2 separate regions of the Homo sapiens genome follow, and region 2 is linked to region 1. Evidence: fine-mapped expression QTL. Tissue or cell type: lung. Region 1 holds a variant in brackets; the other region holds the start of a gene. All regions are shown on one strand. Distances are from middle to middle.

Region 1 (8,101 bases):
GTGTGGGCTGGGCAGGGGCATCAGCTGCTCTTACTGGGGGAGGATGGTAGTGATGCAAACACAAGAGGTAGGGTTGGCAGCCGCACCCCTTGCAACTATCAGGGCAGCCTTGGGGCTTTCACAGGCGTGGTGAGGACCTGTCCTTGCGTGTTTCCCTCTTACCATGTTACCATGGAAACACACCATGCATGGACCTTACCCTGCGGATATGCCCCCTACGTGGCAAAAGGGATGTGCGGATGTGAAGGACCAGGAGATGTGTGACAATCCTGGGGGACCCAGGTGGGTCCTAAATGTCACTTCAAGGGTCCTTTTAAGAGGAAGGCAGGTGGCCAGGCTTATGCCTATAATCCCAGCACTTTGGGAGACCGAGGTGAGAGGGTCACTTGAGGCCAAGGCCAGCCTGGGCAAAATAGCAAGACCTCGTCTCTACAGAAAAAAATTAAAAATTAGCCGGGCATAGTGGCGTGCCCCTGTAGTCTCAGCTACCCGGGAGGCTGAAGCAGGAGGATCACCTGAGCCCAGGAGATGGGGGCTGCAGTGAAGCATGATGGCACCACTGCACTCCAGCCCTGCATTCAAGCGCGGGTGACAAAGCGAGACCCAATCTCAAAAAAGAAAAAGAGAGGGAGGCAGGAGACAGGTGTGAGGAGGGGAAGGGCTGCGAGACAGAGGCTTCGAGGAAAGCAGAAGGTCTCCAGAAGCCTGCAGAGGCCAGGAGGGAGCCTCCCATGGGGCCTCTGGGAGGAGCCTGCTCTGCCGACGCCTAGATGGAGCCCCTAACTCTCCTTCTGGATTTCTGACTCTGGAGCTGTGAGAAACGAACTTCTGTTGGTTGAAGTCACGGGTTGGTGGTTAGTTATTACAACAGAAACAGGAAACCGGTATGTCGGGTCGCTCCCAGCCTCAAGCCCCAGCTCTATTTTCCCATAAAAGCTAAGTTCTCACCATGAGGTGCTCTAGCTGCCAGGGTGGAGGAGGGGGTGTCACCCCACACTGATTTGTGGGCCCAGGGGTGAGGACACCTCACCTGCCACCCAGAACCGGGCCCACATCTCCCGGCGAGGCCTCCGTGGCTGCATTGCCGGCAATGACTAGGTGTTTTATGCTGAACGTTGAAGATATTTTCCACTGGAGATTTAACACGGAACATCAAGAACCATTGAAATCACTCATATCAATTGAAGATACAATAATTGAACCCCATAAAGATTACTGAGAAGCTGGTGGAGCTATAAGGAGAGGCATAAATAGAGATAAATTGGGCCCCCTCCACCCCCCCAGCCTCCCCCTGGAAGGAGCTCATTAGAGATGCTCACGGGGCCACTCAGTGACAGAGACCCACAGCAGGGAGAGGGGGGCCGGGGGGTTCCCACCACAGAGGGGCCTGAGCAGATCCAGAAGCTTCTGTGCATCCGTTAATGGTCTTGATCGGGTCCTTGGTGAAAGCGTGGAGCGAAGGGACCCAGGGGATGACAGCTCTGTTCTCCAGCGGCCTAGGCATCTCCTTTCCTCTAAGGGCCGCACCCCGAGCCCTGATCTGGGCCGCACACGGAGCCCCGATCATAGCCATACACTGAGTCCTAACCCAGGTCATAATCCAAGCCTCATCCTAGGCAAAGTCTAAGCCATGATTCTGGCCCCAAACTGAGCCCTGCTCTGGTCACAGTCTGAGCTCTGACCAAGGTCACATACTGAAGGCGGACTGTGACTGGAGGCTGAGTCCTGAGCCCTGGTGTCTCATCTCAGGCGGGTCCAAGCTCCAGGACTGTGGGTGCTCCCAGATGTCCACCACATCCGCTCACGCTGCCCTCTCTCTGAGCTTCTCACAGGCCGGGCCCTGGCTGGGCTCTGCATATGGAAAGAAAGGCCCCCTGTCCTCAGGGCATTTGACTCCCCGCAGGGAGGCAACACCTGAACAGTGATATCAGCCAAGTACTGTGGATGACGGGAGTCCCCAGCCCGGCTCTCCCTGCCCTCCCATGCCCAGGCCTCCAGCTCTGACCCTGAGAGCCCTCCAGCCGCCGTCTCCGCCCTCTGCCAGGCAGATCAGAGCACTGCTCCCACCTCTGAGCGGGGCCCCTGTCCTGGTCTGCTGTGTGTAGAGGCTGAGGTCGAACAGGCTGAGCACCGGGGGCCTGGGGTGCACTCCCTGAGTGGCAGGGCAGGGCCCCCTCCATGGGGCCTCACTCCTGCTTGTCATGGTTCAGAAGAGCTGAACGGGGAAGCAAAAGGCACAAAGTCAGCCTGTCTGGCTTTGCAATCTTGGCCTCCCCTCGGCTGCATGGCACAGAGAGGTTTCTTGCCATCTCAGAGCTTGGCCTGCCTAGCTGCAAGGGGATGATGACGGCATCTGACTCCTGGGCTGTGAGTGTCATCGGAGGGGACCCAGGCAATCACTGACAAGTTCCCGGGGCATGAAGCCCTCATGAAAGGGAACACAACCATGATCAGGTCCTAGGAGCGCCACACTGCCCTGGACTCCAGACCCGTGATCCTCCCATGCTGCCCCCAGGGTCTCTCAAGGGCCCACAGCCTCCCTGCCCTGCTCTGTGCCCCCTTCCTGGGCCCTCCCGCCTGTGGACCCTTCTCCGTGCTGTTCCCTCCTCCTCTCCCAGATCAACTCTCTATTTCCCGGCTCCCTGGGCACAGGTGTGAGGCTAGCAGCTGTGACTGTGCAGGGTGAACGGCTGATGCCCCAGCCACCCTCCCAGGCTCGTAAATCTGCCCTATTTCCCTCAAGCCGATACTCAGCCAGGCCGCCTGCACAATCCAATATATTTCAGTTACAAGCTGGTCTATTACCTGATTCATAACCGATCTGTCAACCTGAGAAATCAATGCATCCGTGGGATGCCACATACATAACACCTGGTGCATAATTGAATTCAGGCTCCCTGGCATCTCAGTGCATGGCAGGTGCTGCTGGGAACCTCAGCCCCCTCCCCTGGGACAGGGGTAGGGGCAGGGAGAACGTGCCTCCTGGCTGCGGCACCGGGGTGCAGCTCCGGAAGGACGTCTGCAGTTCTAGGCGTGGCTGGGTGATTCGGATCCTGGGCATCCTTGCCATTCTGTCTCAACTCTATTTGAAGAGACCTCAGAGCCTTTTCACCCAGCCTCCCACACCTGAGCAGTGGGCCCCCTCTCTGCCTGCACACTCACTGCCTCTGAGCGGCCCAGCCCCCACTCTCTGCCTGCACACTCACTGCCTCTGAGCGGCCCAGCCCCCACTCTCTGCCTGCACACTCACTGCCTCTGAGCGGCCCAGCCCATTGCAGACAGTACAGACCCACAGAGCCAAAAGTGCTGCATTTACCAGGCCCCTCCCTAAGATATCAAAATGCCAGCTACTCAGAACCTTCGGGGGAAGGTATTATTGGCTCATTGTATAAATGAGGAGTCTGAAGTCAAGGAAACGACCTTCCTAAGTTTGAACCACCAAGCTTGATTTGAAACCAGAGTCAGAACCCAGACCCACGACCTCTCGTGCATCTGAGATGAAGCCCAAGGGGCTGCTCCAGGGTGGTCAGCAGGGGCGGGGCCAGGGTGGTCAGCAGGGGCGGGGCCAGGGGC[G/A]GGGACTCCACAAACAGGAGCTTTCGGGGTCTACAGGGTCTGCATGTGCAGGGGGCGCTGTCTCCCTCTGGTTGGTGTATTTGTGGGGCAGAAACTCAAGTGATTGGGCAAGACCCTGCCCGTGTCCAGCTGCCACGTGGCCTTGGGAGGTCTCCTGTCCCCTCCAGTCCACAAGGTCATCTGAGCTCCTGGTTCCTGTGGCTGGACATCCTCGCTGACCTCACCTCTGGCGGATTCAGAGAGGCCAGGAGGTGCAGGCTGGGTGCCCTTGGCAGCCAAACCTTTCTGGAAGCCCAGGGCTGACTTCAGCTGGGTGCCCTTGGCACCTGGACCTTCTAGAAGCCTGGGGGCTGACTCCAGCTGGGTGCCCTCGGCACCTGGACCTTTCTGGAAGCCTGGGGGCTGACTCCGGCACCAGACACAGCTGGGGCTCCCCTCCCTCATCCCGCCTCGCACCCTGTCATTGATTCTCCTTTTCATGATCGTGGCACCCACGATGGAAATGGCATCTCAGCTCCTGCAAGGATCTATACCCCAAAATAGCAAAATAATTCCCATGGTGCGAGAATGCTTCAGACAGAGGCATGCGGGCTGGGGTTATTGGGGCCATGTTTCCACATGCACCTAATGTATGGACACATCTATTCCTGGGGCCGCCAAATCAATCCATGTGGAAGCCTGGGGAGCTGTGCGTCTCCCATGTGTCAGAGCGTGGAGGGAGCGCCGGGGGTGGGGGGCAGGGGCAGAGGCCCAGATGCTGGGTCCACCATGGAGGCTGCCAGGTGCTGAGGGGGGTCATTAAATACACCCCCCACACCCCTCACTTGTGTGAAGGTCAGAGGACAAAGGACGGACAAAGGCATCTGGTCACCTCTAAAGGGCCACACAGATGCCTCTCACCCTCACCCCACATCACAAATGAGAAACTGAGGCCCGGTCAGGAAGGCATCAGGTGGACAGGGGCCAGGACCCCATTGCTTCAGGCTCTGTGAGTGGCTCCCTCGTGCCAACACATGCACACATATGCACACACAGAGACACACATGGACACACACACGTGCACAGACATATGCACACACACACAAACACGCATATACACAGACATATGGAGACACATGGACACACACACGTGAACACACATGCACACACACAAACACGCATATACACAGACACACACGGAGACACATGGACACACACACAGGCACATATGTGCACAGAGACACACATGGACACACAGGTACACACAGACACCACAATGCAGATATATGCACATGCGCAAGGAACACGTGCATGCACACATACACATGCTCACACACATATGCACACACATGCACACACATGCTCACACATGCTCACATACATATGCACACACACATGCTCACATACATATACACACACACATGCTCACACCGAAGCAAGACACACACAAACACACACAGGCACTTACACACCGGGAAGCACTTCTCAGGGGGTTGTGGCATCTCTGCCTCTGGTGGCCTCTCCTGCAGGGGTCTCCACTTGGTGGTGTTGGGGGCCCCACCTGAGCCCTGGCGAGACCTCGCCTCCCCTCTCCCGGCTACAGGACATGCCAGGGCAGGGTGTGGCTTGTTCACCGAAGCAAGCCCCAGGGTGGATGCAGGGCTCAGGGAAGCCTCTCCCAAGGGAGCACAGGCAAGCGCCCTCAGTGGGGCACAGCTGGAGCAGCGCCTCCATGGCCACATGGCTCTGGGGTGAAGCCCGGCTCTTGGGCTGAAGGCCCCTGGTACCTGAGGGCCTCCCATATTCCCATCTGGAAAGTGGGGTTGGCAATGATGCCCATCTGCACAGCCAAGCCAGTCCAACACCTGGTGCCAAGCTGGCACCAGGCACACGGGCACACAGACCCCAGAGTGGACGGTGGGATGTGAGGGGAAGGGGGAAGGACAGGTGACAGCAGAGGCAGGCTCTGAGCCAGAGTCATGCAGGACGCACTGCCCAGCACTCCTTTCCCCGAGCCCTAAACAGACTCACAGAAGGTCTCAGCCAAAGGGGCTCTAGAGACCGGGGGGCCCATCTCACAGATGGGGAAACCAAGGCCCAGGGAGAAGAGGTTCATTCAGGAATACGCAGCAGATCACAGACCCTCAGAACTCGACGGGCCTCCAGGCTGCTCCCTGCCAGATGGGAACTCGCAGAGCAGCCACGAGACAGCGGAAGGGGCAGGGGCAGGGGCAGGGGCAGGGTCTGCCGTCTTCCTCTGGGACTCGCCCCATCTTGAGCCGAACAGATGAAACCGTTGACAGTGAAGCCTCGCCTGGGAGGACTTCAGCTCACAGCACGTGGGCCGGCCTGAAAGGGAGGACCCAGGGAAGGGGTGCTGGGAGGGCTGGGGACCCGGCAGCTCCTGGCCGGCATCCTCTATGAACTGCAGCAATTCATTATCCTTCCTCCAGCTGATGAGGATGATCAGGAGGACAATTAGTCTTGGAATTACCGCGGAGGAGACCGTTAAGAGAAAAATAAATTAAAAAGAAATCCATTCGAGGTGTAATTGTAATACAGTGTATCATAGTCAATTGAATCACAAATACAAGCTGGTCCCTTGTCGATTGATTTCAGCAAGTAAACAATTTGGGTATCTAAATTGGAAACTCGCCGGGAAAAGGAGCAATGATTTGGTTAAAGGGAGAACTGAAAACGTCAGGCCAAAAATTGGTTCTAGGTGTCTGGCTGCTACAGGACTGTGCAGGTGACCCTAGATGGGAGGGAGGTCACCAGCTCCTCCCTGCCTGCAGGTCAAGGTCACCCCATCTGGAAGCTACCTAGACCCCAGCAATGTTACCTGACCTGTGACACCTTTGTTCCTGTGTCCTCCTCTGTGCCGCCCATGGTGAATGTGGCTTCTCTGTCTACATGGATGCACTCCCACCACACTGGGAGCTTCTGGGGCACAGGAGTCCTGCTTTACTTCCTATGTTGAGCCCAGGTAGGTGGGGTGGGGGTGCTTAGAAGGCAGCTGTCCAGAGAGCAAATGAATGAATGGGTGGATATGTGGGGGACAGGTGGCGAAATGAATGAATGAATGCATAGATAGGGGATGGATGGATGGATGAGTGGGTTGGTGGATGGGTGGATAGATGGGTGGGTGGATGGATGGGAGCTGGATAGGGAATGGATGGGTGGATGGTAGATGAATGGGGGAATTGGATGAATAGATGGATGGGTGAATGGGGGAAAGATGGGCAAATGTCTGGGGAATGGATGGGTGAATGGATGGATGGGTGGGTAGGGGATGGATAGATGGATGCATAGATGGGGGATGGATGGGGATGGATGAGTGGATGGATAGATGGGGCTTGGAGAGATAGATGGACAGGTAGGTGGGTGGGTGAGTGGATGGATGGGGAATGGATGGATAAATGGGAGATGGAGGGATAGATGGATAAATGGCTAGATGGGGAGGAATGGATGGATACGTGGATGGATAGGCATTGGAGGGATAGATGGGTGGGTGGATGGGTGGGTGGGTGGGTGGATGGATGGGGAATGGGTGAATAGATAGGGGATGGAAGAATAGATGGCTGAATGGATGGATAGGTGGATGGATGGGGGTTAGAGGGATAGATGGGTGGGTGGGTGGATTGATGGGGAATGGATGAATGGATGGAAGGATAGATGGATAAATTGATGATGGGGAAGAATGGATGGACAGGTGGATGGATGGATGGATGGAGGTTAGAGGGATAGATGGGTGGGTGGATGGATGGGGGTATGGGTAGATGGATGGGTAGATGGATGGGGAATGGATGAATAGATGGGGGATGGAAGGATAGATGGATAAATGGATGGATGGGGAGGAATGGATAGATAGGTGGATGGATGGATGGGGGTTAGAGGGATAAATGGATGCATGGATGGATGGGGAATGGGAGGATGGATGGGGGATGGAGAGATGCTTAAACAGACTTAAAAGACTAAGGTATTGACAGCAGGTAGCCATTTCTCCCCCTCTGCAAGAACTTTGGACCTGAGATTCCAGAGCCCTTTTTAAATCTTCCAACAAGGAAACTATTTTGTAGCAAAAAAAAAAAAAAAAAAAAAGCAGAGTCACACCTGAGGCCTCCAGAATTCCCTGGCTTCCTCCATCACCCTGAAGCAGGTGGCCTCCTGTGCAATGAAGAGGGTGCCTGAAGACCCCAGTTAGAAACAATGCCCCATGCGGAGGGGGTGCTGTCCTACAGGATGGGGTGTGTGCTGAGAACGAGGGACTTATATCTGGAGCTCCTTCTCCCCCAGGCAGAACCTATGGGGTGGTGTCTCTCATGGTTACATTCTCCACCAGTTCACATTCCCCTTCTAGGGACTGCCCAAGATAATGCCCAGTGCAGGAATGTTTCCACCAGGGGTCACAGGAATGGCTCTGCTGCCCTGGGGGCTGAGTTGGCCACCTGTCTGGTGCCACCAAGTTAACAAGCAAAGCAGCATGAAGGCAGTGGCTGGGGAATCAACCCTGATTATCAAGGATAGGAGGCCTGAAGAACCACATGAA
Region 2 (8,084 bases), 200 kb after region 1:
CTAGCCCTGCCCAAAACATGTCCCCAGCCCTGCCCAAAACACACCCCCAGCCCTGCCCAAAACACACCCCTAGCCCTGCCCAAAACATGCCCCCGGCCCTACCCAAAACACACCTCCAGCCCCAAAATATGCCCCCAAACCCTCCCAAAGCACATCCCCAGCCCTGCCAAAGCACAACCCCAGCAGAGTCAGCTCCCCTCTCCACCTCCTCACTCCACCGCCTCAACCTTGCTCTGTAAGGTGCCCTCTCCACCTCCTCACTCCACCGCCTCAACCTTGCTCTGTAAGGTGCCCTCTCCACCTCCTCACTCCACTGCCTCGACCTTGCTCTGTAAGGTGCACAGCAGTGTCCGGAGCAAGGCCAGGACAGCCTGATCCTGCTTGCCACTGTGTCCATCCCAAGACTCATGCCAGGCATGGCCTTAGCATAGTCTCACAGAACATTACACATCTCAGACAGCAGCCCTGATGGCAGGGGCAGGGGCTGGGGACTTGCCAATGACCCTGTCCAGGCAGGAACACCCAGTAGACTGTCCTGCTTGCCTGCAGTGGCCCCCAAGTGGGTTCACATCCTAACAGGACCTACCCAAGGACAAAAAAGGAAGGGCCCTGTGCAGCACAGTCCGGATTTGAAGCCCACACGGAGCCACCTTCACCCCCATCCCAGACTCAGCAAGCCGCAAGTTGACGAGAGAATCTCATAGCCTGGATAAGGCCAGGCAGGACAGCCACAGCTGGCTTCTGAGGACAGCCCTGGATGGCAAGCAGGACACCCCGAAGCAAGGCCCCTGCAGGAGACACCGCCCAACTGGGCTCCGTAGGTGAGGACACCCCGCCCATAAGGCATCTTCAGAAACCTATTCAAGGCACCTGGCTTGTCATTGTTGGTAGTGCCCTTCTTCTCTGCCAGGGAACTCAGACCAAGAAAACTCTTCCTATGGAAGCTTCCAGATGGCTCCACCATGCAGCACTAACAGGAAGGATAGTGGAATAAGAACAGCACAGGCTCAAGATCAGCTGTGAAACAACCCCTCACGTCTTCAGCAAATCCCCATCGGGCATTCACTGGGCCCCAGGCCCTGGGCCACAGCTGGATGGACGTTCAGAGACGCACAGCTCCCCGCGGGTGGGGTGGCAGACAGGGAGGTGTGGAAAGGTACAGAGTCCACCACTGGCGCTGGGGACCGTGGGGGCAGGAGGAATGATGATCTTCCCCAGCTGCCTCAATGCGCCCAAGAGGGAGAGGATGAGGATGCCCTCAGTACAGAGAGCAGAGCCAAACATAAGCATCCACACTGAACAACTGACTGTCACCTCTGGAGGGACAGCGCCGGCCATGAGCTCTCCAACTCTCTCACTCACTCCTTCTTGCCTTTAGTCTTTTGGTCACCACTGCTCCACACACAGATGCCACAAATGTTTAGACAGGGCTGAGCATCCCAGCAGAAAGCAGAGGAATCTGAGAGGAGGGCTGCTCAGGAGTCTGCTACTATGGACGATGCACAAATCAGACTTTAAAGAACACAATGAATGACAGCTGGACTGGGCCACAAGGTCAAAGTCTACTTGTAGCAAGTAACACCATCCAAACAAACCCAGTAGCCACAGAAACGCCCGTGTGCATTAAAACAAAAAGCCTGGAGCCAGACGCCATGACTCACGCTGGGAATCCCAGCACTCCGGGAGGCTGAGGCCAGAGGATGGCTTAAGGCCAGGAGTTCAAGACCAGCCTGGGCAACTGGGCAACACAGTGAGACACGCCTATCTCAAAAAAAAAAAAAGAGGTGGCTGGGCACGGTGGCTCACACCTGGGATTACAGTGTGTGGCTCAGGCAGGTTGATCACCTGAAGGTCAGGAGCTTGAGTCTAGCCTGGCCAAAAAGAAGAAGTGGCTGGGCACAGTGGCTCACGCCTGTAATCCCAGCACTTTGGGAGGCTGAGGCAGGTTGATCACCTAAAGGTCAGTAGTTTGAGTCCAGCCTAGCCAACATGGTGAAACCCCGTCTCTATTTAAAATACAAAACATTAGCCAGGCGTGGTGGCAGGCCCCTGTAATCCCAGCTACTCGGAAGGCTGAGGCAGGAAAATCACTTGAACCCAGGAGGCAGAGGTTGCAGTGAACCAAGATTGCACCAACGCCCTCCAGCCTGGGCAACAAGAGGGAAGCTTCTCAAAAAAAATTAAAAGGGCCGGGCACGGTGGCTCATGCCTGTAATCCCAGCACTTTGGGAGGCCGAGGTGGGTGGATCACAAGGTCAAGAAATCAAGACCATCCTGGCCAACATGATGAAACCCCGTCTCTACTAAAAATACAAAAAATTAGCCAGGTGTGGTGGCAGGCACCTGTAGTCCCAGCTACTTGGGAGGCTGAGGCAGGACTCCGTGTCAAAAAATAAAAATAAGAAGAAGACAGCCTAACCCCTAGCCAACTGTTCTTATGGCCAAACACCACTCAGAGGGATAAAACGCCCAACAACCTCGGAAGAAATGTGTCTGTCTGGGCTGAACAAATGACGTCCTAGAACCCGACAGTTGAGGGACTCACGGCAAGATCACCATTCTGTGTCTCAGTCTCTCCATCTGGGAAATGGGGACAACAGACCCTCCTCCCAGGGTGACTGTGAGAGTAAACTGAGTAATGAACACAGTTCCCTGGTCACCTGGCACCAGGAGGTGCTGTGACCAGTATCATTAGTGTCACCACCTGCAGACACTCACCACCCCTTTTCAGGACCGTGGAAGGATGCACCCACGCCGTGTCGCGAATGGCTTGGTACAGCCATGGTCGAGGCATGTTTGTCTTTCCTCCCCACCTGGAAGGTGACTCCCCAACTCCGCCCACCTGGAAGGTGACTCCCTGATTCCATCTCAAGCTCCAGCATCGTGACCTAGCTGTACTTCTCACCACATTCTCCTCAAAGTCTTACGTGTCCAGTGTATTTATTCATCAAAACCTGCTAGGTGCTTATCCTACTCTCGGTGCTGGGTGGGGTGCTCAGGACACAAGGGTGACACAGCAGAGGTCTATGCCACAGAGGCTCCCAGGCACACAGGAGAGACAAACACGGGAGTGCCAGGGCATTCCAAGCAGAAGGCTCTGCATCGACAGGCACACCAGTGAGAAAAGCCACAGACTATGCAGGAAAAATGACTGCACTGTCAGGGACATAAAGCAGGGACTGAAGATGTGGCAGGAGCTGCTGGCAGGAGCCAAACCCAGGACCTCGCTCTGCAGGCCATGAGGAGCTGTGGAAGAGACTTAGGGACACCTGGCTGCCCATGAGCCCCTAGACTGAGTGCCTAGGTCTAGGCTCTTGACCCAGCATCTACAGAAGGCCAGACTCAGGGGAAGTGTCCAGGGAAGGTTCCTGGATAGAGTCAGAGCAGCCAGAGGCTGCCAGATGTTCATGGGGCCAGGCCAGCAGAGGAGGAGAGAAACAGAGGTGACCCAGCCAAAACTCAACCTCCTCCAGGAAGTCGTCTTGGATTTGCCAGCCTCCCACAGCCACCTGCATTCACGGCCTGTGCTGCTGTGTCCAAACATTTGTTCTACCAGATTTCTGCTGCGGTCCTGTGATGTATGGGGTCGAACGGTATGAAAGCAGCGGTTCAGTCGGGGGAAGCACTCCAGTACTAACAAACTTCAGCTTTCTTTCAACTCAATACTGTGTCCACACTGGGAGTATCCTAAGCAACAATCCCCACCCCTGTCTCACAGGCACTAAAGATAAAACAGAAAACAAGCAGATGAGTGACAATGACAAACAAGAAATACTGTAGGGAGAGCGGTCAGAAAGGTGAGCTCAGACATACCGGAAGCGGAGCTGCCCCCAAGCCAGGAGCGAGCCAGGAACTAAAAGAAGAGGCAAGTGTGCAGCAGAGGAAAGAAAGGGCGCCAGGTGTGGCTGGAAAGGCACCTGGCAGGATGAGGGGCGGAGAAGCACCGGCGGAGCAGCACGCGCGAGGCCCATTTTGAGCCGCACCACACCGCTCACAGAACTTCCTGTGATAAGCAGTGTTCCCTACCCGCGCTGCCCCACACAGCCGCCACCAGACACGTGTGGCTACTGAGTGTCGGACATGTGACCACTGGCACGGAGGACCTGAATCCTTCACGTTAAGGACAATGTAAACAGCCACACATGCCTAGGGGCTACCACACTGGACATGGCAGAGCTTCCAGAGCAGGAGGAGTGCGCCATGAGGCAACAAACACGAGGTCCCTGGAGAGTTTCTGCGGGGGCAGCACAGATCAACATCACCTGAAAGTCCCTGGTGGGGATGTCGCAGGCCCCAGTACCCAGGAAGCACCTTCTTACAACTTGGAGAAGGGACAGAAAGGCATGGAGAGGCAAGCACACAGGAACGGGGTCCCCAGCTCAGGCTCGAAGGCGGGCTCCGCTCGTTGAGCTGCAGGGCACCAACCCTTGCACCCAGCAAGTAGGCGCTGGGGCGCTCCCCGGGACGGCACTGACCTCCAGGCGCAGGCACCGGCTGCCCGGCCCAGAGCCCACCGACCTGGGGTCTGAACAGCGCGCGAGGACCCGCCGAGGGGCTCATGTGCCCGCGGGCCGGTCCCCGAAATGCGGCGCTCTCGCGGGGCTGCGGCTCAGGGTCCCTGGCGCCCCTGGGGTCCACCCCCGGCACGGTCCCGCCCCCTCCCCTCCCCACCGGCGCGGCCCCGCCCCCCGCCCGGCCTCCCGCAAGCCCCATACCACGCCACGCCGCGGCCCCCGCCGGGCTCCGGGCCCCGCGCTGGTCCCCGGCCGCCTCGCCCTCGCCGCCCCACGCCCGGCCCCGGCCAGGCCCCAGCCCCACCGCCGCCGCCTCACCTGGGCCTCGGTGGCTCGCGGACCGCTCCGGGCGCTCACGGCGGGCGAGGCGGGCGGGGCGGGCACCCAAACATCACGTGACGGCCCCTCCCGCCGCCGGCGTGCGCGCCCCCTCCCGCACCAGCCAATGGCCGCCGGTCCCGGACGCGCGCGGGGACTACCCGCCCCAGAGGCCCCGGCGCGGAGCCGGAAGCGGCGCGGACGGCGGTCGGCTGGGCCAAGAGGCCTCTGCGGGTGCGCGCGCGAGTCGGCTGTCCTCACTTGCCTGGTGGTGGGCCTCCGTTTCCCCGTTTCCCCGTTTTGCATATGGGGATGACGGCGAAGGTGGAGGTCACGTGGAGGGCGGCGGCCCGGCGCTGAGGCGCTTCGGGAGCGGGCTCCGCCCAGCCCAGGCCGAGCCCGGACCTCACACGGGCCAAAGCTGGAGCTTCTGCGGGGCTGCGCAGGCGGCGGGTCTCGGCCAGGGCAGGGCCGGGCACCTGCGCGTCTCGCGCTGCGGGGACGGGCGTTGGGCCCCAAGTCAGGCTGCACGGGCTCCGCGTGGGGCCGTGCTCGGCCGGGGGCTGGCAGGCCCCGCGGGGACTCCGGACTCCCAGTGTCACCAACGAGGAAACTGAGTCTCAAGACATCTGAGGGACCTTTGCCCGAGGTCGCAGCCCCTCCCTGGAGGAGCTGAAGTGCAGAGTAGGGAGCCCCTTGCGGAGACCCTCCTGGGACCTCCTTCCGCAGGGGCCTGGGGCGCCTCCCTTTCCCTGCTCTGCCTGCGGGCACTGAGCTCCCGAAAGACTCCAGCCCCTCGCTCTCCCGGTGACCTGCTGGAGAAGACACCTGGGAGGAACCTGCGGACAATGGGTGTGTGTCCTTGGGCCGCCAGGGTCACCTTTCAGCCTGTTTCCCCAGAGGTGAACCAAGAGTCACACCCAAGGCAGGAGAGCAAGAGTGATGAGTCCGCTGCACCTTCTCCGGCAAGCGGAGGTTCTCCCGCCGCCCTCACTCTGTGATGCTTGCTGTGCTTGCGAGGCCTACGCCAAAGCCCTGCGGGCAGCCCTGGGCTCCCGCGGACAGCCTTGCTGAGCTCCTGGGAAGGAGGCGTGCCCTCCCCTTCCCCCACCGCCCCGCTGGCTGGGGTTCTCTGCAGCCCAGGACTGTGCATGTGTGCGCACACGGGTTCTGTGAACACGAACACAAAAGTGTGCTCGTGGACACTGCGTGGTACTGTGTGCACACAGCGCACGTCTGTGAGCTGAGGGAGTGTTCCTGGACACCAGGTGCAAGTGCACAAGTGTGTGTATGCTGGCACAAGTGTGTGCCCAGGCGCAAACATGGGAACGGTAGTATATGGCACAAATGTGTGCACACATGGGTGGGAGGGAAGAGGGGCACATGCCCACCAGCATTCCTGGGCTGGTGCTCAGGCCGGCCTGTCCTGGGCCCACCCACGCTCCTTGCCTTGGTGTATTTCAGTCTCCCCTGGGCTCCCAGGAGGCAGTAGTGTGTGCCTGTCTTGCAGCCTCGCCATGATTTGGACAGGGCTTCACTCTTCGGCTAGGACAGCTAGAGTGCAGGGAAGCCGGCTCCTAACCAGGGAGGATGCCCATGACTGCTGACCCCCCAGCTTCCACTTGAAGGGGAAGGTTCGCCAGGACCAATGCCTGTCTGAGAGCTGTCAGTCTGGACTGAGGATGCCGGGTGCCTGGCACGGTGCCCACCTCCCCTTCCGTGGCTGGCGCTGTCTGTCTGGCCGCCACCTCACTCAGCCTCCTCTGACAGCTCCGTGTTCAGGTGTGCAAAGGAGGGGAAAGTGAAGCCCTTTCCTCCCAGGGCAGACCACCTCCAGGAGCCGCTTTCTTGACCATACAAGGCGTATATGGGGCTGTTTCTGTGCCTGGACACTGCAGGGGGAATGGTCTAGCGTGGGTAGGAACCACCAGAGGAGGGGCTCCGTACCTGTTGGCTCCTCCGAAATCTGGGATGAGCCCGCCTGAGTGCCCCACAGCAAGTCAGGGAAGGTAAACCTCTCCGTGGAAGAGCCAGGAGCCCACTCCCTCAGGCTGAGCCGATGGGGAGGGGGAGGAGGATGCTAAGGGGTCCTCAGGAAGGGATGAGGGAAATAGCCAATAGCTGCCTGGGCCTAGGGCCGGGGCTCCCCTCCCTTCCCTCATCTCTGCCCCTCCCTGGAAGAGGTCATCACATGACCTCGGGCAGCTCTGGGCTCCCTCCTTCCTCCAGAGAAGCAGGACTCCCTGGGAAGAACTCTGGTCCCACCCCTTGGCCAACCAGTGAGACCAACAGGGTGAATAAGTGGGATTGGCCCCAGGACGCTGAGTTCTGTTACCTAAGGGGGTGGGGGTTGCCTGGTCCTCAGCTGGCACCCCCCAAATTGGATCTACCATTCCAGGTCCCAGAGGGAATGTGGGCAACAAGGTTAGGGGGTGGTTCCAAGGCCTTCGGAAGGAACGTTGAGGCAGCACCCACTAAAGCCAACCTCAGAAATGCTCCCTCTCTGAATAGTAGCATGGACTTCTCAGGGTTTAAGCTGAATTTCCAGGTCAGTGTCAACCTATGGCTTTGTCGTGAGTTTCCCCACCCTCCCACCCTTCCTCTCTACCCTCTGCTGCCTGGCTTCAATGTCACCTGCTCAGGAGACCATCCCTTGCTCCCCTGCAGCCCCTGCCTGGACAGGAGAAGGCCTGTGCACCTCCTGCTCTGCTCCCAGCACAGCTTCTGCTCCAGCAAAGCCCACGGGCACTCAGTCCTTGATTCCTGCACCCACCAACCCCGCCGAGCCGCCCTCACTATTACCCAGGCCTCCTTTGTCCCTTAGCAACAGAACCCCAGTTTTGTTCAAGGCATCAATGTAGCCAGCCTCACCAGCAGCTGGGCCAGCTGTGACACTGTTTGCCCAGGGGATGACTGCAGGAGGCACAATCGAGCCTCCTGGTCCTTTGGAAGGGGCAGCTGTGGCCACCCACCTCACTGACAGTCTTCCTTTCTCCTGGCTCCAGCCTGAAGTGTGGGCACGGCATCCCGAGGACAGCAGCCATGTGGCCAGCAAGGGGCAGGGTCCCAAGCTGAGGATGTGAGCAGCTGCCTTGGTGCCCCAATGGCACCGTCAGACTCATCACCATGGGGAGAACAAGCCCCTGCTCCCTTTATGGGTCTGCCTCATTGGATTTCGTCAGGTTTTCTGTAACTGAAGCCAGTGCCACTTCCATTGTAGCTGATTTGGGCTCCTAAGCTCACGGGAGTGGG

Evidence for each region. PIP is the estimated chance that this variant, and not a neighbour inherited with it, causes the effect.
Region 2: TSNARE1 starts here. The variant in region 1 is fine-mapped to the expression of TSNARE1 in lung (GTEx, PIP 0.96).

The regions. Positions count from the first base shown.
Region 1 is chr8:142,200,338-142,208,438 of GRCh38, forward strand. LINC00051 (long intergenic non-protein coding RNA 51) reads left to right here. Exons shown (of 3, transcript NR_024378.1): 2 at 6,348-6,538; 3 at 7,913-8,101. Among named protein-coding and RNA genes, the nearest start is that of LINC00051, 6.0 kb to the left of the region's middle. RefSeq lists enhancers at 1,464-2,184, 2,905-3,624. The variant G/A (reference allele first, on the strand shown) is at 3,574.
Region 2 is chr8:142,398,272-142,406,355 of GRCh38, forward strand. TSNARE1 (t-SNARE domain containing 1) reads right to left here and starts at 4,911. Exons shown (of 14, transcript NM_145003.5): 1 at 4,833-4,911. RefSeq lists silencers at 4,470-4,609, 4,750-5,319, 5,760-5,809 and an enhancer at 5,041-5,816.